4 linked regions of the Homo sapiens genome follow. The protein of the gene in region 3 purifies or fractionates together with the protein of the main gene of each other region. This does not show direct contact. Each region holds a gene or a part of one and is shown on either strand. Other genes may lie near its edges.

Region 1 (7,031 bases), on a different chromosome or scaffold from region 3:
ACAGACGAAAACAGAGACAGATTGAGCAACAGGAGACACATGGAAAAATAAGATGCACAAAGGCAGATAAAGGAAGAGGAAGAAGAAAAAAGAAAACCGGAGAGAAAAGGCAGAAACAGGGAGAAGTAGGTTCCTATATCAAGCTGCAGGAACTGTGGGAGCACTAGGTGATAGGGGATCATTCCGGGGGTCCCCGGCTGGGTCTGATTGAGTGGAAAGGCTCCTCCAGGGCAGAGGAGGGGTCCATACCGGGGCAGGACTCAGGTCCCAAGACTCCCAGGTGTTGGCGGAGAAGTTGTATAGGACGAGGTCACCCAGGGCATTGTTGAGGTCCTGGCCTGTGGAGGGGTGGATAGTCTCATGCCCTGGCCATAGGCTGCCGGGCCTCCAGATCCCAGATACTCGCCCCATCTGCTCACCTCCGAAAACTGCCAGCAGCCCTGGTGGGGACAGGAAGGCGCCAGCTGCCCCAATACGGGCAGAGAAGGCAGGGTCCCTGGCACTCACGTTGTGCCACCACCCAGCCCCCTGGTTCTCCCACAGGTGCAGGTCACAGGCACGTCCCAAGAAGCCAGGCTCACAGCGGCATGGTCCCAGGGGCTGCGGGAAAGGAGACATAAAGGCAGAGATAAGAGAGGGAGAGACAAGGACAGAGAGACAAAGGAGACACAGAGAGGAAAAGAGGCAGAATGAGACAGACAGGGCACAAAGGGAGAGAGAAAGAGACAGACAGGAAGGGAGAGGATGGAAAAGGAAAGAGAGAGAGAGAAAGGGAGACAGAGAGAGACAGGAAGAGGGGAAAGGCAAACTGTCAGACAGAAACAAGAGACAAAGAGAAACAATCAGAAGGAAGCAGACAGACGGAAAAAAGAAGACCAACAGAAAAAGGAAAAGATGCACAGAGAAAAAGGAGAAAAGACAGAAAGACGGCAGGCTGGGAGAATACAGACAGCGTAGTTGACATTCAGCCTGGACTGAAAGAGCTCAGATCTGGGGAGGTCAAGGCGGGGAGGGCTCAAAGCGCAATCCAGATTGAAAGCTGGATGTACACAGCTTCGGCGTAAGGTCAGTGGTGCGAGGCTGGAAGTCATGGCAGGGGTCCAAGGCCACACAGAGTGGCTGGATGGGAGGACAGATTTGGGCCTGGCTGGAGGAAGGAGGGTGGTGTTCACAGATGAGAGTGGGGTATAGATGAGAGTGGGATATCCTCAGCAGGGGAGGCCCTGCAGGTGAAGGTGGGGTGGGGTTGGAGTAACAGGTGAGGGGCAAGCTCTGGAAGGAGAGGGAAGTGGGTGTCACGGAGGAGGGTGGGGTGGTGGGGGGAGTTTCATGCAGGAGCAAGGTCAGACCTAGGAGATGGGCGTGGAGGCTGCGCTCACAGATCAGGGCCCCAGGGGAAACAGGGCTGGGGACCGGCTCACCGAGGCGCAGGTGCCGTGGCTGCCACAGTAGGCTGAGCACTCCTGCAGGCCACAGTCAGGACCCCCCCAGCCCGGCTCGCAGGCACACACACCCGGTGGCTGGCACTGCCCGTGGCTCTGGCAGCCACCCGGGCACAGGGAGAAGCGGAATGAGGCGTTAAAGCCCAGCAGGTTGTAGTTGGCATCACTGAAGAGGTGCAGCAGCATCTGCGGGCACAAGGTGTGCTGGGTAAGGTGGGCAGGGCCTGGGGATTGTCCTGGGAGGGTGGCCCACTCCTGCCCCCTTCCACCCTGGGGGACCCAGAGCCTCATCTCCTTCCTTTGCCTCTCTCCACCTTCCCTTGTCCCTGTGCTCTGCTCTTGGATGCCCTCTTACTGACTCTCTGTCCCTCCTTTCTTCTTCCATTTCCCTCGGTGTATCTGCCACGGCCCCATCCCCACTAACCTTGCCTGAGGAAGCTTCGATGGGCGGAGGTCGGGTGCTCCCACTTAGACTGGCAAGCAGCGGCCCTCGCGGGGAGTCACCGTCATACACGAACAGGTAGTCATACGTGCACTCTGTGTCCAGGAAAAGGAAGTCCAGCAGGATCCGGTGCTGGGGGCTTGGGGCTGGGAGGTGAGCACAGAGGGACCAAGCTCTAAAGCGGACCTTCTCCCCACACCTCCCTGCAGCCTCCCACAATTGTACACCAAACCCTGATCCAGGTGATGCTGGGGGCTCAAGAATGAGTCAGACCTGGGCCCCGCCTTGAAGGGGCCCCCAGTCTCATAACCTAGGGCAGTCAAGGGCTGTGACAGCCAGAGGGACAGGAGCCCAGAGAAAGAATCATAATATTCCAGACCTCTAGAAAGGTCACCTGAGATCAGAATGAACACTCCCACCATTCAGATGGGAAAATTAAGTACAGAGAAAACCCCATCCCAGTGGCCACACAGAGCAGAATCCAGTGTTCCTGATGCCTCTCTCTTCCTGTCCATGCCTGAGTTTCAGACATGTCCAGGCTGGAGGGTCAAGGTCATAATCCCAGTGAGAAGAGCACCTCCGTGACACCACCCCTGGCCCACGCTGAATAGAGCTGCAAGAGAAGAGTCCAGCTTCTTCCCCCAGAACAGAGGCCTAACCTTGGAGCGGCATAGTTCCCCTCTGTCCCCATCCAGAGTCTCACCTCTGCTTATTGTGATGGTTACAAGCACAAACTCTGGAACCAGACTGCCTGAGCTTATGTCTTGGCTCTGCCACCAAATAGCTACCAGCTGTGTGATCTTGGCCAAGTAACCCACCCCCTCTGGATCGGTCTCCTCATCTCTAAAGTGGGATATAGTGGTACTGTGGTGGAATCAAACTTATAGGCCACTCCTGCCATTGAAAGTTAATTCCCTGCCTCTCGTATCTGGGAAGAGCCTTAGTGACTTGCTTGACCAATAAAAAAACAGCAGAAATTCTGAAACTTCCAAGGCTAGATCATAAGAAGACTTGTACTTTTCACCTGGGCCTCGTAGAATGCTCCTTCTCAGAACACAGCTGTCATGATAGGAAAAGCCAAAGCCGGCTGGGCACGGTGGCTCACACCTGTAATCCCAGCACTTTGAGAGGCCAAGGCAGGCGGATCACGAGGACAGGAGTTTGAGACCAGCCTAGCCAACATGGCGAAACCCCGTCTCTACTAAAAATACAAAAATTAGCTGGGCATGGTGGCGGGTGCCTGTAATCCCAGCTACTTGGGAGGCTGAGGCAGGAGAATTGCTTGAACCTGGGAGGCAGAGGTTGCAGTGAGCCGAGATTGTGCCATTGCACTCTAGCCTGGGGGACAAGAGCGAGACTTCGTCTCAAAAAAAAAAACAAAGAAAAGCCAAAGCCACAAGAAAAGGCCACACACAGGCATTCCGGCTGACAGTCCCAACTGAGCTTCCAGCTGACAGCCAGCATCAACTGCCAGCCCTGGGAGGGACCTTCCTGGATGTCCAGCCAAGGTGAACATTCAGCTGACTGCAGCCCCAGCTGACATCTGACTGCAACCTCATGAGGAGCAATAATGCACACGAAATGGTGACAACAGAGTGGGGTGGGTGGCTCACGCCTGTAATCCCAGCACTTTTGAGAGGCCAGGGCAGGTGGATCACCTGAGGTCAGGAGTTCCAGAACAGCCTGGCCAACATGGTGAAACCCTGTCTCTTACTAAAAAAAAATACAAAAATTAGCCAGGCATGGTGGTGCAAGTCCCAGCTACTCAGGAGGCTGAGGCAGGAGAATTGCTTGAACCCGGGAGGCAGAGGTTGCAGTGAGCCAAGATTGCACCACTGCACTCCAGCCTGGGCGACAGAGGGGACTCAAAAAAAAAAAAGAGGCTGGGTGCCGTGGGTCACGCCTATAATCCCAGCACTTTGGGAGGCCAAGGTGGGTGGATCGCTTGAGGTCAAGAGTTCGAGACCAGCCTGGCCAACATGGTGAAACCCCGTCTCTACTAAAAATACAAAAAATTAGCTGGATATGGTGGCACATGCTTGTAATCCCAGCTATTTGGGAGGCTGAGGCAGGAGAATTCTTGAACCCGGGAGGCAGAGGTTACAGTGAGCTGAGATCATGCCATTGCACTCCAGCCTGGGCGACAAGAGTGAAACTCTGTTTCAAAAAAAAAAAAAAGAAATGTTGACAATGGGGCCCACATATCGTGGAGAGTGCCACTACCCCTAACACTGTCACTGTCTTATTCTCTGCCAGTCCTAGTTCAGGTAGCCTCTCTCATTCCACATCCCACATGAGAAGCCTTCTGAACAGGCAGCTCAGGGGAGTCCTCTGGGTGAGGGAAATTAGGAGGCCTAGGCTCTGGCTCTGGCTCTGGCTCTGCCCATGACCAGCTGGAGGACCCTGGGCCAGCCCTTTCCCCCATGACCCTCAGTGTGCCTATCTGGATCCTGGAGACACTCAGCCACCACTGCCAATGGCTGGGTGATCCTGGGCCAGTTCCATGGGCTCTCTGAGCCTTAGTTTCCATGACTGTAAAATGGGGATAATTCCCCCCACCCACAAAGGCTGGGGTGAACATTCAACGAGGTGATGACTCCAGCCTGCCAGCTTAGAGCCAGAGTGTGCCCTGGCTGCCCGGCCTCATCCTGTCTCACCAGAACCACTGATCCAACCTCCTTCTTCCCCTGACATGAGTCTCTGATCTTCCCAACTCAACATCTGGCCCCGTCCCTCCCCTGCCCCAAAGCCCTGCATGGCTCCCTACCACCCTAGGAGAAAGTCCAGGTCCCTAACCTGCTGTTCAGACCCTCGCTTTGTCTCAAATCACCCCACTGCTTACAGCTCTAATGGGAGCTGGGCCTTTGTACAAGCTTCTCCCTCTGTCTGCAACATATTATCCCTTCCCACCACCAGGCCTCTTCCTGATGCCCCCTAGCTGGGTTAGATGCCCCCTCTCCAGGGTTCTCACATCCCATTATAACCTTCATTCCTCTGGGCCAGGAACATCTATGTCCAGGTCTGTCTCCCTGCAGCCTACAAGGCCCATAGAGCAGGGCCTGGATGTGGACCTAATTCCCTCTGCAGCATTGCCCAGACCCGGGCTTGGCAAAGGCTCAGGAAATGCTGGATGATGAAATGAAGAAATACATAAAAGACAGAATACTAAAGCTGGAAGCTCTCCCTCAGGCTCTAACCAGAGCCCCCAAGACATCAGACACAGACCCCACCCATGCTTTGGGGAATGCAGAAGAACCATTCAGCACGGCCACACAACCAGACCTCCCAGAATCTTACCAGCCTCAACCAAACTATAAAGCTCTGTTTCTGGAATCACAAGTACATCTTTGTTAAGTGCCTGCTGGAGGCCAGCTCACCATCTGCCTCCCCAAGTTCTTCCCTAAGTTGAAGGTCTTCTGTTTCCACCCAACCCCCATACCACTCCAGACAGAAATCTGATCCCAAACTCCCTCCTGCTCAAAAGCAGGATGCCTCTTATCCATGAGGATGTTATAAGGACTAGGACTGGGCTGGGCGTGGTGGCTCACGTCTGTAATCCCAGGGCAGATCATTTGAGGCCAGGAGTTTGAGACCAGCCTGGCCAACATAGAGAAACACCATCTCTACTAAAAATACAAAAATTAGCCCGGCATGGTGGCACATGCCTGTAATCCCAGCTACTCAGGAAACCAAGGAACAAGAATCACTTGAACCTGGGAAGCAGAAGCTGCAGTGAGCCGAGATCAAGCCACTGCACTCCAGCCTGGGCAACAGAGCAAGATTCTCTCTCGGAAAAAAAAAGTCTAGGACTAGATAAAGTATGAACATAATACAAAAGTTAGTAGGTTGGTTGTTTATCTTTTTTTTTTTTTTTTCCCTGAGACAGGGTCTCGCTCTGCTGCCCAGGCTGGAGTATAGCAGCGCAATCTCGGCTCACTGAGACCTCAGCCTCCTAGGCTCAAGGGATCTGCCCACCTCAGCCTCGCCGGTAGCTGGAGCTATAGGCACATGCCACCACCCACCAAGCCCAGCTAATCTTTTGTAATTTTTTTGTAGAGACAGTGTCTTACCATGTTGTTCAGGCTAGTCTCTAACTCCTGGGCTCGAGTAATCCTTGCATCTCAGATTCCCAAAGTGCTGGGATTACAGGCATGTGCCACTGCCCCTGGCTGGTTGTTTATTTTATAATAGATAGAGGAAGATGTTGGTTCTTATAGGTAAGAAGTGACAGGCATTGGTAAGAACAGAAGATCATCAAGGGGGATCTGGAGGTCTCCCAGCCTCCTCCCTCACCCCAACATCTACCCAGTTGGTCCCCAAGTCTTATAGGTGAAACTCCACAAACATCGATTGCACTGTCTACACCTCTCCACCCCTCTAAGCCCCTGCCCTAGTTAGGAACTCATCCTCTCTTGCCAGATCAGCTCATCAAGTCTCCAGTCTGCCCCACACCCAACCTGAGGGCAATGCCCTACTCCTGCTCAAAACCTCCTGTGGCTGCCCATCAACCCCAAGGGGAAGGCCAGGCTGCTCAGTGTGACATTCAAGGCCCCTCTTCCCCTGCTTCTGGCTCTCATTACCTCCCAGTCAAAAGTGCCATAAGACCAGGCAAACCTAGATGGGGATCCTGAGACACTCCAGCCACCCTCACGTCTTCATAGAGGCTGTTTGCTCCCTTTTCCCACTCAATAAACTCCTATGCATGCTTCAGAACCCTATTTTAGTGGCTCCTGCTCTGTTATCTGCAGCACAGTCCTCTTTCCTCCCTAGGTACATCCACCCCACCCCTCCACTTTCCTTCTTAGCCCTGAGCACTGTCTCAGTGAACACACTGGGGGCTGAATATCTGTGTCCAGCCCCACCATTCCCAACCAGTCTGAGACGTTTTTTCTTTTTTTTTGAGGTAGAGTCTCGCTCTGTCACCCAGGCTGGAACCACAGATGTGCGCCACCACGCAGGGCTAATTTTTGTAGTTTTAGTAGAGAGGGGGTTTCTTCATGTCGGCCAGGCTGGTCTCTAAAGCCTGACGTCAGGTGATCCGCCCCACTTGGTCTCCCAAAGTGCTGGGATTACAGGCGTGAGCCACCGCACCTGGCCTAACCAGTCTGGGACTCTTTAAGGCCAGAGAGTGATTTATATCCAGCACA
Region 2 (7,000 bases), on a different chromosome or scaffold from region 3:
TGTTGGAAAGAGCTGGTTAGACAGTGCCATATAATTAAGGGCTTTGATGCAGCAGGAAACTGGGTGCCAGTAAAGGTTTTTGAACAGGAAAATGCTGAAATTAGAAGCATACCATGTAATTCTTGTCTAAAGGGTCTCTAGGATACTTTTCTGCTAGAATATATCCAACCTGCCAGTAGAGGTCCTTATGAGGACTCATACTTACCATTGCAAAAGGAAGACCAGTGAGCCTATGAAAGAAATGAGTCTGGAAATGGAAACGGACATTTTAATAAAGGACAACTCCCACTTACAGAGATTGTCTAAGCTCCACTGGGCACAGAAACCAACTTGACGTTTCAGATAATCAGGATCATTAGCCCAGGACTCCAATGTGACAAGCCGGTCACTAATACTGGATTCAGAAATAGTCAATTTATTTTCACCTGTTTGGAAAGACATAATCCTTGAATTAACAATGAAAGGGTAGAATGATTTGCTCAGCAAATTAGTATTGCTAAGGAGGGGGAAGAGGCAATTAAAGAATTGGAGACTAGATTAGACTTCAATTAAAATTTCTAGGGAAAACATAGCCAAAGAGCTTTGACTATTTTGTTTTCCTTTTTTTTAGTCACAGGGTCTCACTCTGTTGCCTAGGCTGGAGTGCAGTGGCACAACTATGGATCACTGTAACCTTGAACTACTGGGCTCAAGTGATCCCCCCGCCTCAGCATCCCAAGTAGCTAGGAACATAGGTGCATGCCACCATGCCTGGCTGATTTTTTAAAATTTTTTGTAGAGATTGAGTCTTGCTATGCTGCCCACCCTGGTCTCGAATTCCTGGCCTGAAGCAATGCTCTGGCCTTAGCTTCCCAAAGTGCTGGGATTATGGGCAAGAGCCACCATACTTTTTTCTAGAAACTAGCAATCACATCACTAAATTTTTGGCTATAAAAAGTGAGTAAACATGGTTACCAAGTTTTGATTCTTAGGTGAGAAAATCCTTGCCTTTGTCCCTGTTATACTTCATTGGCTTTAACGTGTCTATCCAGATGAAAACAGAATGTATGCCCATCTGATGGGGTTCAAAGTGTAGGCTTATCCAGTAACTAAGAAAAATAAAATTTTTAACAACCAATACAGAAGATCATTAGTGCAAGAAGTCACTATACCTACTTGTCTGTGCAAACTTTTCCAGTGCGATAAGTGCAAAAAGCATGACTGTGGGGTGGGACTGTAACTTCTGAAAAACAACAAAAGATAAAAAAAAAAAAAAAAAATCATTCCCCTGCAGAGGTGGCAAGTTATCAGTTTCATTTCCTTGCCCAATATGTGCTAGATGTTTTTTCGAGTGGTCAGAAAAGTTTCATTCATTCAAGTTCTCAATTATCCATTTGGCTAATAATGTTAGTAATGAACTGGACAGGCTCTCTTAATCTTGTATTTTTTTCTTAAAGTCACTAGGTTAATTTATAGATTTGGAAATTTCAAAAGTATCCTGTTAAATACACTATGTTATTTTACTTAATAAAACTTACATTAGGGCTTTGTTAAATAAAATATTCATTCTCACATTCATTTATGCAAGCCAAACAGAAACCTAGAATTATAAACTAAAAATGATATTTTACTTAGAATCCTAAAAAGAACCACTTATCACTAACAAGTTGCAAAATTATAAATAATTAAATTAACAATTAATGGCTCAGTTTTTAAGCTGTTCCCTGAAAGGAATTCTACAAATGCTGATGGTAGACAGGAGAAAGCAACAAGTGAACTCTTTTAGTTACATTTAAGCTCATGTCACATGAGTTCCCCTTTAAGGAAAGGTCTATCTGTTGAACATGACACCTTCTCATAGCTGTGCTTTCCCTACTGCTACATTGGGAGCCACCAGAGGAGCTCCAGAACATCAGATGATTCCCACTGACTTCCCTGGTACCTCCTAAGTTCTGGAAACCTCACATAACCACCATCCCTGCTGCTGGAAAGCCTATTCAGCATTCTATTTCTTCTCATATCCATCTAAATCCCTCTGCCTGGCTTTTCAGGCCCTAAACCCTTTCTAGCTGGCTACTCAGTCTGTGTCCTATCTCTGAACACTGTCTTCTCTCATCAGACAATTCTCTGTCTCTGGACTTCTGCCTGTGATGTTCCCTTAGCTAAGAAACCAATTTTTTCCCTCCTCTGGGCACAATAAAATCCTCATCTATAGCATGACCCAGCTGAGGGTCCACCTTCATCAGGAAGTCTGACTTTCATGACACCCCGGCTCTCATTACCCATACCACCCACCTTCTCATTTAGTCTTTTTTTTTTTTTGAGATGGAGTCTCGCTCTGTCGCCCAGGCTGGAGGGCAGTGGTGAGATCTCAGCTAACTGTAATCTCTGCCTTCTGGGTTCAAGTGAATTCCTGCCTCAGCCTCCTGAGTAGCTGGGACTACACACACATGCCACCATGCCCAGCTAATTTTTGTATTTTTAGTAGGGACCAGGTTTCGCCATGTTGGCCAGGCTGGTCTTGAACTCCTGACCTCAGGTGACCAGCCCACCTCAGCCTCCCAAAATGCCGGGCTTATAGGCATGAGCCACCGTGCCCGGCCCTCATTTAGTCTTGATGAAGTACTTTCTCCCATGATCACATCCTGTGATAAAATGGAGGCTAATTACCTTGTCTGAGTAGTTTTGTTTCCTCAACTAACCAATAAACCTCTTGAAATCATAGGACTGCCATGTTGTATCCCCAGAGTGCTCATTGAGAGTAAGGTAAGTGTTTTAAGCACGTATCAGTGGGTATTGACAAATAAGGGTTTTCAGACCAGAGTTTTGAAAAGGGCCAATGCTCACTAGGCCTACAAAAATAACTTTTAAAAATACAGACCATTCAAGACCACAGGCCAGAACTATGAGAGATCTGAGGGCACAGCCTCAGCAAACCAGAAGCTTCATAGACAATATATTAAATATTCCAGTGACAACAGTTTTAAGAGTAGCAGTGAGGGGGAGGGCAGGGAGGAGTAGAGATTTATATATACTGGGAATCTGACTTGATGGCCTCCTGGCTTGGAACGCCATGTAATTGTTTCTACTGTGGAGGTCCCTATTACCATTTGGCAAACTCAAGGAACATGCAAAAGAGCCAATCATAGCAGCTATCTTATGACTAAATTTAAAACCAGACTAACTCAGCTGTTTTTGCTGGTTGGGATAAATTCCAATCCCACTCTCTTTTTTAAACATAGGAGGGAATAAATAAGCACTCGGGAAACACCTGCAAATAAAATTTACAATTGATTCCATTCTCTGTGCCAGTGGCTATGCCAGCAATTTGAGAAAATGCACAGTTCTAGATGATGCCCACTTCTAGATGACTAAGAATAAATAGTTTTGATGTCTCACTTACCAGACACTGTAGCAAGTATTCCAGTATTCCTGGGCTAAGTAAACCTATACTTGCAGGACCTAGACAAATACAACAAACACTTGATATAATTAAAATGCCAGATTATTTTAAATCACTGGTAACAATCAAATTGTTTTGGTAGAACTCTTTCATGCACATTATCTTATTAAAGCCTCCTGCTCTGAGGTAGAAAATAGTACTAGCTCCATTTCACAGTTAAGCAAGTGAGCCCACAGAATTAAGCAACTAACTCCAGGGCACTTGGCAAGCACATGGGAGAGTCCAAACCAGTAGCCACATGTTCTGATTTCTAATCCATTGTTTCTTCCACATTACGTGATGTAAGTAGCTGAGCTATGCCCCTGTACTTTGCTGTTAACTTTCTTAAAATGGGTAACATTCATAAACAAATTAAATACCTGCTTCTCAGGAACTGCTCCAACCAGAAGTTCCTTTTCCTCTCCCTCTACCTTGTATGTCTTCATAATCGAGCTAAACTTTATAAAGTGTGTATATATGCAAATTATATATTGTATACACACATACATATCTTTGTTATGCTGAATTTAGCTTTTCTCCCTTTTTTCTTTTCCTCGCTCCTTATTCTTAAAGCAAATAAGCACAACTTTTTTCTTTTAAAATTTCCCCTGAAAATCCACAAAGCTAAATTAAATTGCATTCACCTCTGTAGCCTTTCAGTAATTTTCTTCCAGTTAGTCTATGTCTCTCAATATCATTTTTAAGAGATTTCTTTCTGGTATAGCAGTTTGATCAAAGACATACAGTACAAATTTCCCTTTAATGTCAAACAACTTAAGATCTTCCACTGTGGAGTGTCCCAAAGTTACCTGCTAGTTTCTCGGCCAAGCAGCCTAGGACTGCAGATGTGTTCCTGTGTTTGGCAGGATGGCTTGAGTCCTGGCAAGCTACTTCTCCATTTAAATTGAGAATTTCAGTCAATTTCTGGAGTGCATCCTAAAACAAAAAAGTACAAGTGGGTTTGACCCATATACTACACAGGTTGTTTTCCCAGGCTCATTTTTTTTTTGAGACAAAAGCTATAACCAGCACTTTGGGAGGCCGAGGCGGGCGGACCACAAGGTCAAGAGTTCGACACCAGCCTGGCCAACATGGTGAAACCCCATCTCTACTAAGAATACAAAAATTAGCCAGGTGTGGTGGTGCGCGCCTGTAATCCCAGCTACTCAGGAGGCTTAGGCAGGAGAATCACTTGAACCTGGGAGGTAGAGGTTGCAGTGAGCCGAGATCGTGCCACTGCACTCCAGCCTGGACGACAGAGCAAGGCTCCGTCTCAGGGGGGTGGGGGGAGCTATAACCAGGTGTTAAATAAACTCAGAATGACCATATAAAAATTATGCAATGTACCCTAATGATATCATTGATGGGAAATATCTGATCAACCTGAAAGTCTCCTTACATGACTTACTAGATTCCACTTCATTCAGAATGCTTAAGTTGTATCAAATATATGCTACATATTCTTGAATCACTAAACAGATTAAACCCACTCAGATGCCATTATGAAAACATTAAAGGCTGGTGATGTTGAAGTAAAAAGTTACTTTAAAAAAAGTTTTACTAAGCAAAAACAAATCCCAGCAGAGTTTTCTTCTTTTCTTTTTGCTCTTGCTCTGTTTCCCAGGCTGCTGTGCAGTGAAGTGATCATGGCTCACTGTAGCCTTTACCTCCTGGGCTCAAGTGATCCTCCCACTTCAGCCTCCCTCGTAGCTGGGACTACCGGCACATGTCACAGTGCCCAGATAATTTTAATTTTCTGTAGAGATGGGAATCTCATTATGTTGCCCAGGCTGGTCTTGAACTCCTGGCCTTAAGTGATCCTCCTGCTTCAGCCCCCAAAAGTTTTGGGATTATAGGCATGAACCACTGCACCCTGCCCCAACAGAGTTGAAGGCAAATTGAAACAGGCAGCTCTTATAAGCCTAGGCAAAGGTCAATTCATTGGTGACTACGCTAAAGACTTTCCCCTTCCGTCCACAATGTTTTTCTGCACTGGGCTTAAACAGATGAATGAAAATGCCAGAATTGAGGCTGGGCACAGTGGCTCATGCCTGTAATCCCAGCACTTTGGGAGGCCAAGGTGGGAGGATGCTTGAGCCCAGGAGTTTGAGACCAGTCTGGGCAACATAGCAAGACTCCATCTTAAAAATGAAAGATGCCAGAATCCAAAAGAAGAAAAAAAGAAAAAAAAAAAGGACTCTGTAAAACACATGGGAAAGCAATGAAAGTTCGATGCTTTTGTTCTATGTAAAGGATAACCAATGTTACACTAATCATTAATACATTTGAGTAAGATTCAAAAGTGCTTTCAGTTTTAACTTTTTTTTGTTGTTGTTGTTGAGATGGAGTCTCACTCTGTCGCCCAGGCTGAAGTGCAGTGGTGCAATCTCAGCTCACTGCAGCCTCCACCTTCCGAGTTCAAGTGATTCTCCTGCCTCAGCCTCCTAAGTAGCTGGGATTACAGGTGCACGCCATCGTGCTGGCTAATTTTTGTATTTTTAGTAGAGATGAGGTTTCACCATGTTGGCCAGGCTGGTCTTGAACTCCTGACCTCAAGTGATCTGTCTGCCTTGGCCTCCCAAAGTGTTGGGATTACAGGCATGAGCCACCGTGCCTGGCTTTCTTTTTTTTTTTTTTTTTTAACAGAGACAAGGTCTCACTATGTTGTTCAGGCTGGTATCAAACTCCTGAGCTTAACTGATCCTCCTGCCTTGGTCTCCCAAAGTGCAGGGATCACAGGCATGAGCCAGTACATTCAGCCCAGTTTTTCCTCTTAATAAAAAACATTCTTAAAACTTTTGTTATGAGGAAATTGCTTAGAGAAAGATAAGAAAATCAGCGAAGCAACTCAACATTCTCTTCTAGCTTCTGAATAAAGATCGCCACCTGAGATACAAATACTTCTTTTTTTAACCAGGCTGGAGTGCAATAACGCCATCTTGTCTCACTGCAATCTCGACCTCCAGATTGCAAGTGATCCTCCCACCTCAGCCTCCTGAGCAGCTGGGACTATAGGCATGCACCACGTTACCCTGTTAACTTTTGGATTTTTTTGTAGAAACAGGGTTTCACCATGTTGCCAGGCTGGTCTTGAACTCCTGGACTCAAACAATCTGCCTGCTTTGGCCTCCCAAAGTGTTGAGATTACAAGTGTGAGCCACTGCGCCCAACCTAAATGCTTCTTTTTTTTTTTTTGAGACAGAGTTTCGCTTTGTCGCCCAGGCTGGAGTGCAGTAGCACAATCTCAGCTCACTGCAACCATTGCCTCCCAGGTTCAAACAATTCTCGTGCCTCAGCCTCCTGAGTACTGGGATTACAGGTGCCTGCCACCACTCCCGGCTGATTTTTAGTAGAGACGGGGTATTTTAGTAGAGACGGGGTTTCACCATGCTGTTCAGGCTGGTCTCGAACTCCTGACCTCAGGTGATCCACCCACCTCAGCCTCCCAAAGTGCTAGGATTACAGGCGTGAACCACCGCGCCCAGCCTTAAATGCTTCTATTTTTAACATTTAAAAAATTTTAACCTAGGCTGGGCACAGTGGCTTACACGTATAATCCCAACACTTTGAGAAGCCAAG
Region 3 (7,168 bases):
GTTTGGTAAACAGGCAACGAATGAAAGAGATGGTTTCCAAATCCTCTCCCACCTGCCCACCACCCCAGGTTCCTGTCTGTAATTCCATTAGCTTTCTTCTTTCTCCTTCTAGATTCACAGCTGGGGATTCTGGCCAAGACAAGAACTCGGTTCCTGGTGACTGCCCAGTGCCCTCCATTCTATGAAGTGAATTTGATCAGAGCACAATGATGCAGGATAAGAATCAGAAAGGGCAGTGCCAAGGTGCAGGGGCTACAAGGAAAGGTGACTCCCCTCGCTATCTGAGGATAAGAGGCAATTGATGATGGCCCAACACTCACAGCTTCTATCTTCCCCACAAAGGGAAAGAAACAGGGAGGCACCTCCCATCCTCTAGGTGGACACAGCCCAGCCAGCAAATCAGGGTATCACGACCAGCTACAGAATTTATGGGACCCAGGAGAAAATGCAAATGTGCAGCTCTTTGTTCAGAAAGTATTAAGGATTTCAAGACAGTGACAGCAGGACTTTAAGCCGAGCCAGAGTCTTTCTGAGTGCAGGACTTTGTGCACGTGTCCTGCTGGCTCAATGTGAAGCCCCTGCCTGCCCTTCAAGCATGGTGGGGTGATGTTCCAGATCTATCATGGATGTGATTAGAGGTCTTGTCCCCTGGTCTGAAAGACATTCCACCCCTCAGGTTTACTACCCTCGTCTGCACTTCATTTTTGAGGTGCCGATGACACAAGGTAGGTAAGTGAGCCCCATGAAAGCTGCTACCAAGGGCTCAGAGGTTATGGGGCTTGGGGATAAAGGTGACCGTGAGGAACCTGAATCAAGACGGCTCCGGGACACGGTGGCAAAGGTGCCTTTCCAGGCTTCCAGGGGCTTGCATTCACAACCATCTCTGAGTTCTCAGCTAAGAATCCCTAATAGGGTACAAGCAAGAGTCCCAAGAGATCCCATGAACACCCAGGGAACAGAACTTAGAGGTGTCTGATCCAAGTCCCAGATCTTAGAGATGGGGAAGCCAATGCCAGAGAGTTGGTGACCCAGGCAAGGTCAAGCCCTCTGTATGGCCTGCAAGATGATGTGCCTGCAGGAGGGGTTCCCTGAACACTGGGAGTCATCAAAGCCTCCCCCTGTCAGAGCCACACTCTCTCCACATGGCCCCAGGAGAAGGCTGACTTCCCCACTGGACGAACCCCAAGACAAATTCAGGATGGTGCTGTCTAGGCCCTAGGGTAAGAGAGTTTCTAAGGACTGCAGGAGAGAAGGGAAGGCCCTCTGTGACCATGGCAGTGGGTGACTGGAGCCAGCCTGTGGAAGGCCCAAGGACGAGCTGATGTGAATTCACCCTGCCTTGGCATCCAGGGGGGCCCACAGGAAGGAAGGGAGCCCATCCCAGGGGAATTCTACCCCGAGTGGACTGTGCAGGTTCTGTCAGGCTCAGCTAAACCCACCCTTAGACTCCCTGGAGACCAGGATGCTTTCAAGGAATTTTAAACCCCTTGGATCCTGGTGGGGTCAACAGTGAGTATGAGCCCCCTTGGCCCCTGGGGAATGAGATAAACTTTCGGGGCTTTCTCTATCTCAGAAAAGAGGCTCAGAGAGACATCTCAGGTATCTAATCCCCCTGGTCAGTTCACTTCATTCAGAGGGAGGGCTCCTCCTTCCACAGGATCAAACTCAGGATTGAGTTTCTCTTGGGCCAGGCCCTCAGGGGGGATGTGGGTCACACCCCTGACCTGCAGAAGAGACCTGGGCTGGCAAGAGGCCCCAGCAAGAGCTAAAGGCTGTGCCAGGGCAGGCTCTGGGCTAACTGAGCGGGGCTGGGGTGGAGTGAGGTCCTCCTGGGAATGAGCAGATGTGGGCCTGGTCCGGGAGCCACGTTCCTCACCACAAAAGGCTGACTTACTCGGGAGTGTTGATCCAAATGATGTCCAGGTGGCAATAGTAGACACACTCCTTGTCCTTGTAGGTGAAGCACGTGCAGCGCCTGGATCGGTGGTGCTCAGGGGCCCCCTCGGCCGCCTGCTCCTGCCCAGGGCTTCCAGGGCTTGGACCCTGCAGTGCTGTCGGGGCCACAGTCCCCTCGCCAGGGCCAGCCACAGTCTCCTCGCCAGGGCCAGCCACAGTCTCTTCACAGTCCCCCTCAGATCTGGCTGCAGTGGGGGCCTGGGACACGCCGCGCCTGCCAGCATCCCCAGACTGGGAGCAAGGCACGAATCCTGCAGAAGGCAGATTGAGGGGCTCCTAAGCTGAGTGTGCAGACCCCTCAACACCCGCCACCCCCAAACACCTGAGGAGGGGGGTGGAGCAAGCAAAATGTCTGCAAAGTTTCCAAAGCTCTGCGCAGTTTCTGAAAAGTTTCCAAGCTATCTGCACACTCTGTGAAAAGCTTGCAAGCTATCTGCACCCGTTGAAAACTTGCATGCATTTTGCATACTTTCTGCAAACTTTGCCAGGGTTTGGCACAGCCTCTGAATAGTTCGCAAACTTTCTGAAAAGTCCCCAGTTTCATGAAAAATTGACCAAGTCGGCCCAGGCAGCAGGTCTCCAGCCAGTGCGCGGGCTGCAACTCCCGGAGCCCGTGCGGGTAGTCGTTGCGCGCCGCTTCTGCTCCCCAGCCCTCCCCCAGGCGTCTTCACGAGTGCAGAGCCCAGGCAAGAGTTTGCTCCCCGCGACGCACATCTTCTCCGCGCCTCGGGTCCCCCGCCCTGGGTCCTTTTGTGTGCGCTCGCGCCAGGAGAGGCGCGCCGCCCCGTGCGCTTACCTGCGGCGGAGGTCACTGTGAGCCCGAAAAGGAGCCACAGCCCCGGCTCCATGAACCTAGATCAGGCGCCGGAGCACCGGACCAGGAGGACGGCCGCTTGTGGCCGCGAAAGGGCACTGGGGCCGGGTACAGCTGGCCTCGCCCTCCAGCTGTGGGGGTTCGAGGCCGGCCGATCGCTCGCTGCGTCTCCAGCTCCGGCCAGGAGTTGGCTGCGGCGGTCATAAACTTTCAGAGCGCGCTGCCCATCCCTGCGCGGAGCTGGCCGGCTGTGGCTCGGGCTTTTCTGGCTTCTGCACCACCCCCGTCGCCTCCCCGCCCCCCAGAGGGGCTGGAACTGCCTCGCCGGGCCTTTGAACCCGGGCGCACTGGGGGTCGCCTCCCAGGCGCTGGGGGGAGCTGGCCAGGAGCGCAGCGGCCCGAGGCGCACCCAGGACAGCGAGGGGCGGGGGCGGCGTGGCGTGGCGCGGCTGGGTGGGGTGGGGTAGGGTGGGGTGGGGGCCGGGACAGCTGCCAGCTGCCGGAAGGCCACGAGAGCGCGCGCACACACGCACACGCGCGCTCACACTCACAGGCGCACCCCCGCCCGCCAGTTCGCCGCTCCGGAGTAGCAGCCCCCCATCCAAGAGCAAGAACAGATGAGAAAAGGCTGTGCTCAAGGGGTGTTATCTTTTCTATCAGGGGCTGAGGGAAAGACACATTTCTCATTGTTCCCCGAGTGACACCTTCCCCTTGAAGAGCCTGCTTGCCAAGGAACTCGGTGTACTTTACACTCTTGACTCACGCCTCGGGCTGGCTCCCTACCTCTCCCAGGAGTTCAGAGCCTGCGTGTGGGGCAGTGGCCTGGGAGCAAAGTCAACAAAGATCCTGGGTTAGCGGTCCTGTGGTGTCCAGGGCTTCCTCAGCCATCTGCACAGGTTGGGTGGCTTCAGGTGAGAGTCGGGCTCCTCTCCCTAAAGGCCAAGTTCATTCACACAACCGTCCCTACCAAGGGAAATGACCTCCCAAGAGAGCCCCCTACTTCCTTCATAGCCTTCCAAGTCCTGTGTGTGGGAGGCTGTCCCCATCTCCAGCTCAGATAAAAATGTCTGAGACTGGGAAGTCCTCCTGACTTCTCAGGGCACTTGTGGTCAAAGGACCCTCCTTTCATAACAGATGGGGTTGGGGGAGGGGCAGTGCTTCACATCTGTAATTCCAGCTCTTTGAGAGGCCAAGGTGGATGGATTGCTTGAGCCTGGGAGTTCAAGACCAGCCTGGGCAACATAGCGAGACCTCATCTCTAAAAAATGGGGTTGAATTGGGTCCTGCCCTCTACTAGCCTTAACGACCAGCTTCTGAAAACTAGAAAGCAGCTGAAGTGACCAGAGCAGTTTCTGAGGACAGTCCAAAAGAGTGCTACAACATCCCCCTGGCTTGATAGCTCAGGACACCTGTCCTCTGAACACAGCTGCTGTACCAGGAGGAAGCCCTAACAAGCCCACCTGGAGAGATCACCTGGAGAAACCTACGTGGAGAGAAACCGAGGCCTCCCAGCCGACCACCAGTGTCAGCCACTGACCTGAGTGAATGTGCCTTCCGATGATTTGAGCTCCCAGCCCTCAAGACTTCCAACTGAGGAATAGCTGTCCCGCTGTACCCTGTCCGAACTTCCCACCCACACAATCCATGAGCATAATAAATGGTTGTTTTACAGCACTAAACTCTGGGTAAATTGGTACAGAGCTGCAGTAACTAGAGTAGCACTCAAGCTTCCAGCACTGAAGCTGATGCTGAAGTTCTCCATCCCCCCACTCCCATCCCATCCTGCCTAGCCCTTGAATCCAAGTGTTTATTTGTTTGTTTTTGCACTTGATGCTTTGAAAATAAGAAAAACCCAAGACTCACAATATCTTCTGTTCCTGCTGGGCTAGAATTTGGATCATTTTAGTATTATCTTTGTTTGTTGGGGCTACTATAACAAAACGCCATAAGCTGGGTGGCTGATAAACCGCAGAGTTTTATTTTTCACATTTTTGGGGTCTGGAAAACCAAGATCAAGGTGCTGGTAGATTCGGTGTTTAATAAGGGCTCGATTTCTGATCATGGATGGTGACTTCTCACTGCATCCTCAGTTGTGGAAGGGTCAAGGCAGCTCTCTGGGGGTCTCTTTTCTAAGGACACCAACCCCATTCATGAGGGCTGCAACCCTCATGACTTAATCACCCCTCAAGGGCCCCACCTCCTGACATCATCACCTTCATGGATAGGATTTCAACAGATAAATCTGGAGAGGACAAATATTCAGACCATAATAATTACTATCTCTTTGGAATTAAAATTTCCATCTTCAACAAAATAAAAAGTTCTTGGATTGGGGGATGGCTGGAGGAATAGAAAATATACTAATCAGCTAAAAGGAGAAAAGGAGTAGGAGGAGGTTTCCGGGTACCATGTTCAGACACAGGAGGTATCATGGCTGCTTAGACCACTCTCTGGGTCTATGGCCTTCAGTAGCTTGAAGCCGACCACCACTTGTCTTCACTGGGACTAAAAATCAACAAACCCTGGATGAGCCTCTCAGGCACCAGGAGGTGCTAGCCAAATACCAGGATGGAGCTGGCCCTGCCCTCTGGGTCTTCTACTCTAGTTGAGGTAAGGAAGTTCAGAAATAGATCGCCAAGGATCCAGGATGCTGAGAACATAAAACGCCGCACAGAGCTAAGAGAAGAAGACAGTGTGTTCAGCTGGATGATCAGAGGAGGCAGCATTGTCCTTGGTCCCTAAAGCAAGCCGGGCGCCATGATTTGAGGCAGCAGCCTGCAGTGACACTCGCCAACACCAGCTCTCAAGCGAAAGAGCTCCCTTTCCTACTGTTCTTCTGGCTTCTGACGATGGCCAGGGCAATGACTCGATGTGTCTTTAACAGCTCTCGAACAGAGAGAGAGCTGTACAAAGGGATTTTTGAACAAAGGGATACAAAAGGAATGTAGCAGGCCATAGGCTTGTACAAAGGGATAGCAGGCCATAGGCTTGGAGCCTTTGTCAGGCTGTGGAATCGGGCTTACTGTGCATGGTAGTGATTGACATAAAATTCCTTTCTAAATTAATACACTTAAGTCAAGTAAAGGTAACCTCAATTACAATATGAAGTAATTCATTGTAAAGCCGGCTTGGAGACTTGGCAAGATCACAAAGCCTTCTGGGTTCCAGGCTAAGAAATGTGCAAAGGAAATATACAATTCATGTAACTCAATGGCAAGCTGGTGGTTTCCATCATTGTTTTGCCCTTGTGACAACTCAACAAAATTTATGCTAACATTATCCCCATCTCACAGATTAAAAAACTAAGGCTCGAAAAGGTCAAAGTAACCAGCCTACAACCATGCATCTATTAAGTGGCAGTCTATCAGGATTCAAATTTGACTCCACATGATTCCAGGGACAGAGTTCATAATGCTTAAGCAGCGCTGCCTCTGGAACTCATACCCAAGGTTTTAATGGTTCCCATTTTCTTCTGTGTATCATTGACAACTCACTGCCTCTCCATCTGTCTAGTTTCCATTCCATAATCTCTGATGGAAGGTCATGTAAAGGAATGATGACCTCTACAGAGGACACGAATGAATAGGCATTCTTCTCCGCAGACGTCTGCCAATATTCCTTGATCCTCCTTCACTGCCTCAGCATCCAATGTGCCCCTAGGAGAAGTCATGTATCAGGACACTGCTGGGGCTCGGCCAAGTGCACGGCTTGGTCATTGTGTTTATTTTTCCTCAACTTTTTCCAAGTCAGCAGATGTGCGACTGATACTTTGAGTCCTTACCACTTACATTTTGATTCAAAACCCAGCCATTAAGAATGTTGCAATTTATCTCAGATAAGCATCCCCTCAAGTTGTCTCTTTATGTGCTTTATGATTCTTTGAAGATTGTTTTTCCTTTAATTTAAGGGATTTAAGGGAGAGTAACATAATACATTATGTAGTTTTCCATCATGCTGGAATTTCTTCTCCCCACCCACCCACAGCAGCAGGAACTCTGGACTTACTCAAAAACCAAGTAATTAAGTGCTTTTCCATGTTGTCCAACTCTTAGCTGTGTCTTCCCTCACTGGCACGTGGTTCATTCTAAGATGCACTGGAGGAAGTGCCAGGCTCCAAATCCCTTGCTTTACAAATGAGGTACACTGTGTATAATATTCTCCGTGAAATAAAATGATCACAATGCATTCTGAACTTTAGTGCTATCAATAAAATGTGTTCAAAGCCTAAGAGAAATCGGGTGATCCCAAAAGCAACAAAACTTGTTCAAAAGAGTCCTGAAGTTTTTTCCTGTGTTTTCTGCTGTGGACATTTGCTGTTGTTGCCCTGCCAGCATCCCCATCCCTCCAGGTCTGGTAATGGACCACATCTTCCCCTGGGGAACCACCCCTCCCCTTCTC
Region 4 (7,312 bases), on a different chromosome or scaffold from region 3:
ACACCCATTAGGATGGTTAACATTTAAAAAAAACCAAGCGAACCCGGAAAATGACACCTGTTGGTGCAGATGTGGAGAAACTGGACCCTTGTGCACTGTTGGCAGGAAAGCAAAATGGTGCAGCCACCGTGGGAAACAGTGAGGCAATTAATTCTCAAAAAAATGAAAAAATCAAATGATCCACATTTCCACTTCTGGGAACATACTCAAAAGAAGTGAAAGTGGGATCTCCAAGAGGTATCTGTGTGGTGTGTTCATGGCCACATCATTCACAGTAGCTCAAACGTGGAAGCAACACAAGTGTCCAGCAACAGACGAATGGGTAAACAAAATGCAGGGCATGCATGCAGTGGAATACTGCTCAGCCTTACAAAGGAAGGGAATGCTGACATACGTTACAGTGTGGATCAATCTGGAGGACATTAAGCCACGTGAAATAAGCCAGTCACAAAAGGAGACATTTCATACGATTTCACTCATATGAGTCACCTAAATGGCCAAATTCCTGGAAACATAAAGTAGGATGGTGGCTGCCAGGGGAGGGAAGGGGTGATGCGAGTTGGTGCTCCATGGGCTTCAGTTTGACAAGAGGAAAAGAGTTCCGGAGATGGACCTTGGTGATGGCTACACAACACTATGAATGTACTTACTGTCGCTGAACTAGCTGCACACTTAAAAATGGTTAAGACAGTACATTTTATATTGTATACCACAATAAAAAATTCGGGAAAATAAAGCTTTTTCAAATCAATAAAAAAAGAAAAAACCCCCCAAACACCCCAAACAAACAAACAAACAAACACATCCATGGCCTGGGCAACATAGTGAGACCCCGTCTCTTAAAAGAAAATTAGCTGGGCACAGTGGTGCATGCCTGTAGTCCCCGCTACTCGGAGGCTGAGGTGGAGGCTCGCTTGAGCCAGGGATGTGCAGATTGCAGTGAGCAGTGATAGCACCACCACACTCCAGCCTGGGTGACAGAGCAAGACCCTGTCTCAAAAAACAAACAAACAAACAAAAAACCAAAAAAACCCAAAAAGCGAACATCCATTAGGAACATGGGGACATCACAACCAGGCAATGCACATCACTACACACGGTCAGTGATCAAACAGCCCAAATAGCCTTGTACTGCACAAAAACCAAAGACATGCAGAACAAACCCCCCAACAAGGCATCATTCCTTATCTATGAAATGAGAAAAAAAAAAAAAAAAAAAAAAAGACAGTGCTGCTATCCATTGTGGAGACAGGTTCCCCGCCACTTCTGGGATGGGCATCTGACGTTTCTGACCTCTGGACCCAGATGCCGCCCTTCTAAGAGCAGGCGCCCTGTGAGCTGGGATTCCCACCACCCCTGCCCATTACAGCCTCCACTGCAGGCCAGGAAGGGCCGCTGGGCGGGGCTGGGTGTTTGGATCCTGGGCGGACCTGGGCAGCCCCGTCCCAGCCAGTGCCCCGCGGGCTGGGTAGGGCCCCTTCCATGAGCAGCACCAGGACCCCTGCTTGTGGCGGGTGAGCCCCGCATCAGGCGCCCGACTTTGCATAAACGTGAAATAGGCCACAGGAGGCAGCAACTCAACGTGCAGGGCCGTGTTTAAGAGAAAGCATCTCACCGGGCCTTTCTTTCCTTTTTTTTTTTTTTTTTTTTTTTTTTTGAGACAGTCTCGCTCCCTCACCCAGGCTGGAGTGCAGTGGCGCGATCTCAGCTCACTGCAGCCTCCGCCTCCCAGGTTCAAGTGATTTTCTCCTGCCTCAGCCTCCCGATTAGCTGGGATTACAGGTGCCTGCCACCACGCCCGGCTAATTTTTTTTTGTATTTTTAGTAGAGACGGGGTTTCACCCTGTTGGCCAGGCTGGTCTCGAACTCCTGACCTCAGGTGATCTGCCCGCCTCGGCCTCCCCAAGTGTTGGGATTACAGGCGTGAGCCACCGTGCCCGGTCTGGCCTTTCTTGAAATAATCACCAGAGTCGAAGTGCAAGGGGGCCTCCAAGCCAGAGCTGTGTTATCCCAAGAACAAGGAGCTCCGCGGATCGCAGGCCCCTCCTTTCTGGGTTCCGACCCCAAAGGGAAGGTCCCTTCTCCAGGGGCGTCCTAGGCGCGGGCACCGGGGTTCTGCTGGCACAGCCCGGATGGGCGCCGCTCGCCCGCACACCTGCGGCTCCACAGAGGGCCGATCCGTTCGGTTGCCAGCAGTGGAGACCCAGGCCCAGCGGTTCCACCAGCGCCCCGGCGGAGTCCCAGGGCGGGTGTGGGCGGCCCGGCAGGGGCTGCGGGTCGCTGTCAGCCCGGGTCCCGCCGCCCTGGGGAGCCGCCTCCGTCTGCAGCTTCTCCTGGGCCTGGCGGGGCCCTGGTGGGCTCCAGGCCGGGAGGGGCGCAGCGATGGGGCGTCGGGGCCACCCGCGTCCCCTCCCCGCCCAGTCCCGCCCTCGGGCACCGAAAGCCCCTCCTCCCCCCGCCCCGCCGCCCCTTCCGTCCGGCCCGGGGAGAGGCCCTGCGCCCCCGGAGGTCCCAGCCAGCCGGGGCGTCTTCCCCGCGGGCCGGAGCCGGACCCGAACCGCTCGCAGACGCGGGGCCTGGCGGGGCGTGCGGTGCCGGGGTCGTCTCGGGAGCGGGGGTCCCAGCACCGAGCTCGGGCGCAGACAGGGACCCCCCCACCCCGCCCAGGCCGGCTCCGCCCCAGAGGAGGCCGCGGGGAGGTGGCCCCAAGTCGCGCGCCCGAGGGTCGGACCCAGAGACGCGGAGCCACAGGGGCAGGCGCGGCCCCAGCCCCGCGAGGAGGAGCCCCGAACCCGCCGAGCCCCCCGCCGTCCCTGGGGCTGGAGTCCCCCTTCCCGGGGACCCGAGGGACGGAGCCGCCGCCGCCGCCTTCCCAGGACTCGGGGTCACCCCCCGCGGGCCGAGCGGCTTCCAGGGTGCGGGGTCCGGGAGGCGCTCACCTGGTCCCGAGGAGGCTCCGCTCCCGACGGCCCGAGGCGCGGGCGCCGAGTAAGCAGCAGGGAGGGAACCGCGGCCGGCGCCGCCCCCTTTATACCCCGCCCCGCCGGCCTGACCCGCCCCGCCGCCAGGAAGCGCTGCGGCCCCGCGGATGGGAGGAGGGGGCCGGGGGCACGGGAGGGGGATGGGAGGGAAGCGGGGACCCTCGAGGGCGGGAGGCTGGAGGAGGTGGAGAGGGTGGGGACCCCCCTGCAGCCCGGGCCGAGCTCCCCCGCCAGCCCCTGCCCGCTGCTGCTCGGACTTCGCGTCCCGGGCCCGGCCGCCCGTCGCCCCCGCCCCATTTCCCGGACGACCTGGCTGGGGCTGTGTCCGCCTCCGGGGCCCTGGGTGTTGGGGACCGCGCCCCGCACGCAGGGCCGACGGGGGCCCTGGGACTCGCCCCTTGGTAGCAGCTGCCCTGGGGGGTGCAGGGTTCCCCCCATCAGCCCCCCGACCCCTCCCCTACCCCGTGTCCTGTGTCCGGCTTGCTCAGGCCTCCCGCGAGAGGCCCCGGGTCAGGAGCTCCTGCAGAAACTGCCGCTCCTGGGGCCTGAGGGTGGGGAGCCGGGAGGGCAGGGACAGCAGAGCCTGGGCGCGGAGGTTGGGGCAGAGCCTGGGCATGCGGCGAGCCACCCCTGCCACCCCTTTCCCGCTGGAAACCACAGGTGGGCTTGGTGCTGGGCCCTGGGACCACCGTGAGGTCCCCACCTGAGCCCAGCCGGGGACAGAGTGACAGGGGTCCCTGGTAGGGCTCTGTCTGGGGTCCCCACTCCCCACCCTGGTCACAGTCCCCCAGCCAGGGCCGGGGTTCCTCCTTGAGGTGAGGCGCAGCCGGGTTGGGGAGAGGTCCCTGGGCTCCGGGACAGGGCTCCCTTCAGAGCTGTCCTGGAAGGTGGCGGAGCGGCTGGGGGCGAGGTCCCTCTTCTGATGAGCAGGTTTGCAAATGTGGTGTGTGTGTGTGTCTGAGACTGAGTGTGTGTGGTGTGTGCATCTGAGTGTGTGGTGTGTGTCTGTGTCTGAGACTGAGTTTGAGTCTGTGGTGTGTGTATCTGTGTGTGGTGTGTGTCTGTGTCTGAGACTGTGTGCATCTGTGAGTGTGTGGTGTGTGTCTGCGTCTGAGGTTGAGTGTGAATGTGTGTGTCTAAGTGTGCCTGAGTGTGAGTGTATGTGCCTAAGTGTGCCTGAGTGTGGCAGCCACATGGTAGCCATGAGTCCAGGGCTCCTGCCTGCTGCTCCTGAGCACAGCTGACGGCGGGCACCGTGTGCCACTCCCCTGGGTCCATGCCGAACTCTCACCTGGGCAATGCCTCCTGCTTCCAAGCCAGCAGCTCCCAGGGGGAAGCCAGGCCCCTCCTCACAAGACCAGAATCCTTTAGGGGTTACCTTGGCTCCAGAAGTTCTCCCTCGGCCTGGCCAGCACTGTCTAGGGGCACGTGCTGGCCAAGGCTCCCCGTATCTCCTTCACAGGGGTCTCACCTGTGGTCTGAGGCTTCCGTCCTCTTTGGCCACCCCCCCAGCATCCTTCACAGACATTGCACTGATAAATCTCCAGTCACGTCAGAGCTTCCATGGCACCTGCCTCTTGGAAGACCCCAATTAACACAAGTGGTGCAGGAGGGGCCTGAGACTCAGCTGGTGCGGTGGCCGTTTCCCGGCCAACACCGAGGACACCATTCTGGTTGATGTGGGGATATGGGTAATCTTTGGCACAAAGTTAGGGCCCCAATTGTTAAATGTTTTCACCAAGAGTGATCTGGGACGTTTTCCTGGTGGAAGGGGAGGCCTTGTGGGTGTGGCAGTTTCCCCCTTTCAGTGCATGGGGGGAGTGGGGTTGATGCTCCACAGAGGGATGAATGGAGATTGCGACGTTACCCACGGTTGCCCATCAGGCTTGGTGTGAGAACAAAGGGCCTCTCTGGTTGCTGAAAAGGAGTCCCATGTTTGGCAGAGGTAGAACCAGTATGGCTGAGGAGCCGACAGTGACTGTGGGGACCACCTAGCTCTAGGCATGTTTTGATGCCTGGCCACGGCTGGCCTATGTGAAGGTCTGGACCCCGGTTGGGAAAATCTGGGACCCTGAAACATGGGCTGAGACATCCAGGTGGAAGCCCTGAGGGCATGGCCCTGCAGACCCCTGTCCCCTCAGAGCTTGCAGAGGGGCCCCTCCTGCCCTTGGAAGCCAGCACTTCCTCTGTGCTGGAAGATGCTCCAGGGGCCTCCCCTACCAGAGCAGCAGGTGCCCTCACTGGGGGCTGCTCCACCTTGTCTCTTGGCTGCCAGCAGTGACTAGGGAGAAAGTCCAGGGTAACCTGGATGGGGACCTGCTAGGCCTGACCAGGGAGTAGAGAGGTTGCATGTCCAGGAACTGCACGAGGCAGCCAGCATGTGCCTGCAGGAGCCAGGGAACACCCCCGGTATTAGATTTCCAGGGTGCTTTATCCAGGGGGACAGAAGAACTATTGAGGCGGAGGCACTTGCTTGGCACATAGGATTAGTTACCTGGCAAGTTCTGCAGGTCGTGGGTCAAAGATGATTCTGGGATGGCTCCCAGAAGCCTGGAGAAAGCGATGGGTCATGTTGAGCCAAGCCGCCCTGGCGGACGGCAGAGGAAGGAAGAAAGAGGCCGAGGGCGGGGACTCCAGTAAAATATCGTGGTTCCCTACTCCATTCCTGGACTTGAGCTAATTTCCTGTCTGGAACCATTGATTGCAGAGGTGGCCAGGTCACCAGAAGGAAGGACCAGGCAATACCTTGACAAGGATGTTCTGTAGAATCCCGCTGTCACTCACTCAGCTGGCTGCACGCTGGGAAAATCCAGAGATTTTGAGGACAAATGGACGCGGGATGTGAGTGGACCTTGATACTGGAGGCCAAAAGTGTCGCTGTGGCCTCCCTGTTAGAGAAGGGGCTGACGGGGCCAGGTAATAAAAAGGAATCCTGGCTAAAGTGTTGGGCACAGTGAGACCCCTGGGCCAGAAGACCATCCAGTGGCCGCTTCCCTGCCCCCTGAGTATGTAATTATAATTTATGTACTTGGTGGCTGGAGTAGCCATATATTGGATCCCAGGCCTGTGTGGTGACAGACATCATAGTGGGGAAGTCCCCTTTCCATGGCCAAGAGAGTAAATCACAAACCACGTTGCATCCTGGGAGGATGGCACCACCGTTAAAGGCCTCACGGAGGCGAGGGTGGTGGACTGTCGTGTCTAATTCTCTGGCCTGGTCATTGCAAAGACTGATGGATCCTAGAAAGTGACGCCAGACCACTTAGCCTGAACCCGGTAGTAGCTCCAGTTGCATCTGCTGTGTCAGACGTATCATCGTAGCAGATTAATGAGGCCAGTGATTGGCCATTGCATTCTTTTCTATTCCAATTAGAAAAGAGGATCGGAAACAGTTTGCATTTACATGGGAGGAACAACAATACTCATTCCCAGTTTAGTGCAGGGCCACGCTAACTCTGTCCTCTGTCCTAATATTGCCTGAAAAGATCTGGGCACCTGAGCAGTGCACCGGACACCACACTGATCCATTACAGTGACGACATAATGGGCAGGAGGAGGAACAGGAGGGTCATGAGCTAGAGGCCTTATGAGACACATTTGCATCTGTGGGTGGGAGGTGAACTCCGAGGATTCAGGGACCTAACTTCATGGAAGTTTTTAGGGCACCAGTGATCAGGTTCATACCAGGACATCCTCTAAAGTAAAAGAGAAATTGCTACATCTTGCATCCCCTACTTCAAAGGAGGAAGCACAGGGCCTGACAGGCCTTTTTGGGTTCTGAAGGCAACATATTTAATTCCTGGGGGCACTGCTCTGACCCACGGCTTGGCTGACATGGAGGCTGCCAGCTTCGAGGCGGCCAGGAGCAGAAAATGACTGTCTGAGCAGCCCTGCCATCTGGGCCACGTGACCCAGCAGCCCCTGTGGTGTTGGAGGTGTCAGTGTGGGAGCAGGCAAGTGTGGGGCTGCGGCAAGCCGCAGTGGGAGAGCCAGAGCCTCTGGGTTTGGGTGGAGGCCGTGTCACCTGCAGAGGAAGCTGCTCACCTTTAGAGAAATGCTTCCTGTGGCCCAAGCAGGTGGGGCAGCCCAGCCGTGCATCTCTGTGCACACCAGGACCTGGCTTCAGGTTGGACTGATCAGGGGAGGCTGGGCACTTGCTTTGAGGCCTTGCTGGGACCTGCAATTTCCACCCTATCCCTCCCATGAAGGGGCCCCAGTGATGGCTGCCGTGTTGGGTTTCTGTTTGTCTCTGCAGATGGCAATGACAGCAGTAGTCCCCTGGCAGCCACACACCCCTCTCCAAGAACCCCAGCGTGCCACCTGCCAGAGCC

Evidence for each region.
Region 1: the proteins of EDN3 (region 3) and MEGF8 purify together in Homo sapiens (co-immunoprecipitation; 2 studies listed by BioGRID and IntAct, with this or other methods). This does not show direct contact.
Region 2: the proteins of EDN3 (region 3) and RSPRY1 purify together in Homo sapiens (co-immunoprecipitation; 2 studies listed by BioGRID and IntAct, with this or other methods). This does not show direct contact.
Region 4: the proteins of EDN3 (region 3) and COL6A2 purify together in Homo sapiens (co-immunoprecipitation; 2 studies listed by BioGRID and IntAct, with this or other methods). This does not show direct contact.

The regions. Positions count from the first base shown.
Region 1 is NC_000019.10:42,328,604-42,335,634, reverse strand, and holds part of MEGF8 (multiple epidermal growth factor-like domains protein 8 isoform 1 precursor), read right to left. Parts: intron 2,031-7,031; coding exon 1,867-2,030; intron 1,629-1,866; coding exon 1,422-1,628; intron 601-1,421; coding exon 420-600; intron 339-419; coding exon 250-338; intron 1-249. UniProt on the Homo sapiens protein: Acts as a negative regulator of hedgehog signaling.
Region 2 is NC_000016.10:57,210,329-57,217,328, reverse strand, and holds part of RSPRY1 (RING finger and SPRY domain-containing protein 1 isoform 1 precursor), read right to left. Parts: intron 4,358-7,000; coding exon 4,231-4,357; intron 3,442-4,230; coding exon 3,383-3,441; intron 1,223-3,382; coding exon 1,156-1,222; intron 426-1,155; coding exon 294-425; intron 1-293.
Region 3 is NC_000020.11:59,296,449-59,303,616, reverse strand, and holds the start of EDN3 (endothelin-3 isoform 1 preproprotein), read right to left. Parts: upstream 3,007-7,168; 5' UTR 2,805-3,006; coding exon 2,753-2,804; intron 2,208-2,752; coding exon 1,895-2,207; intron 1-1,894. UniProt on the Homo sapiens protein: Endothelins are endothelium-derived vasoconstrictor peptides.
Region 4 is NC_000021.9:46,093,801-46,101,112, reverse strand, and holds the start of COL6A2 (collagen alpha-2(VI) chain isoform 2C2 precursor), read right to left. Parts: upstream 3,002-7,312; 5' UTR 2,940-3,001; intron 1-2,939. UniProt on the Homo sapiens protein: Collagen VI acts as a cell-binding protein.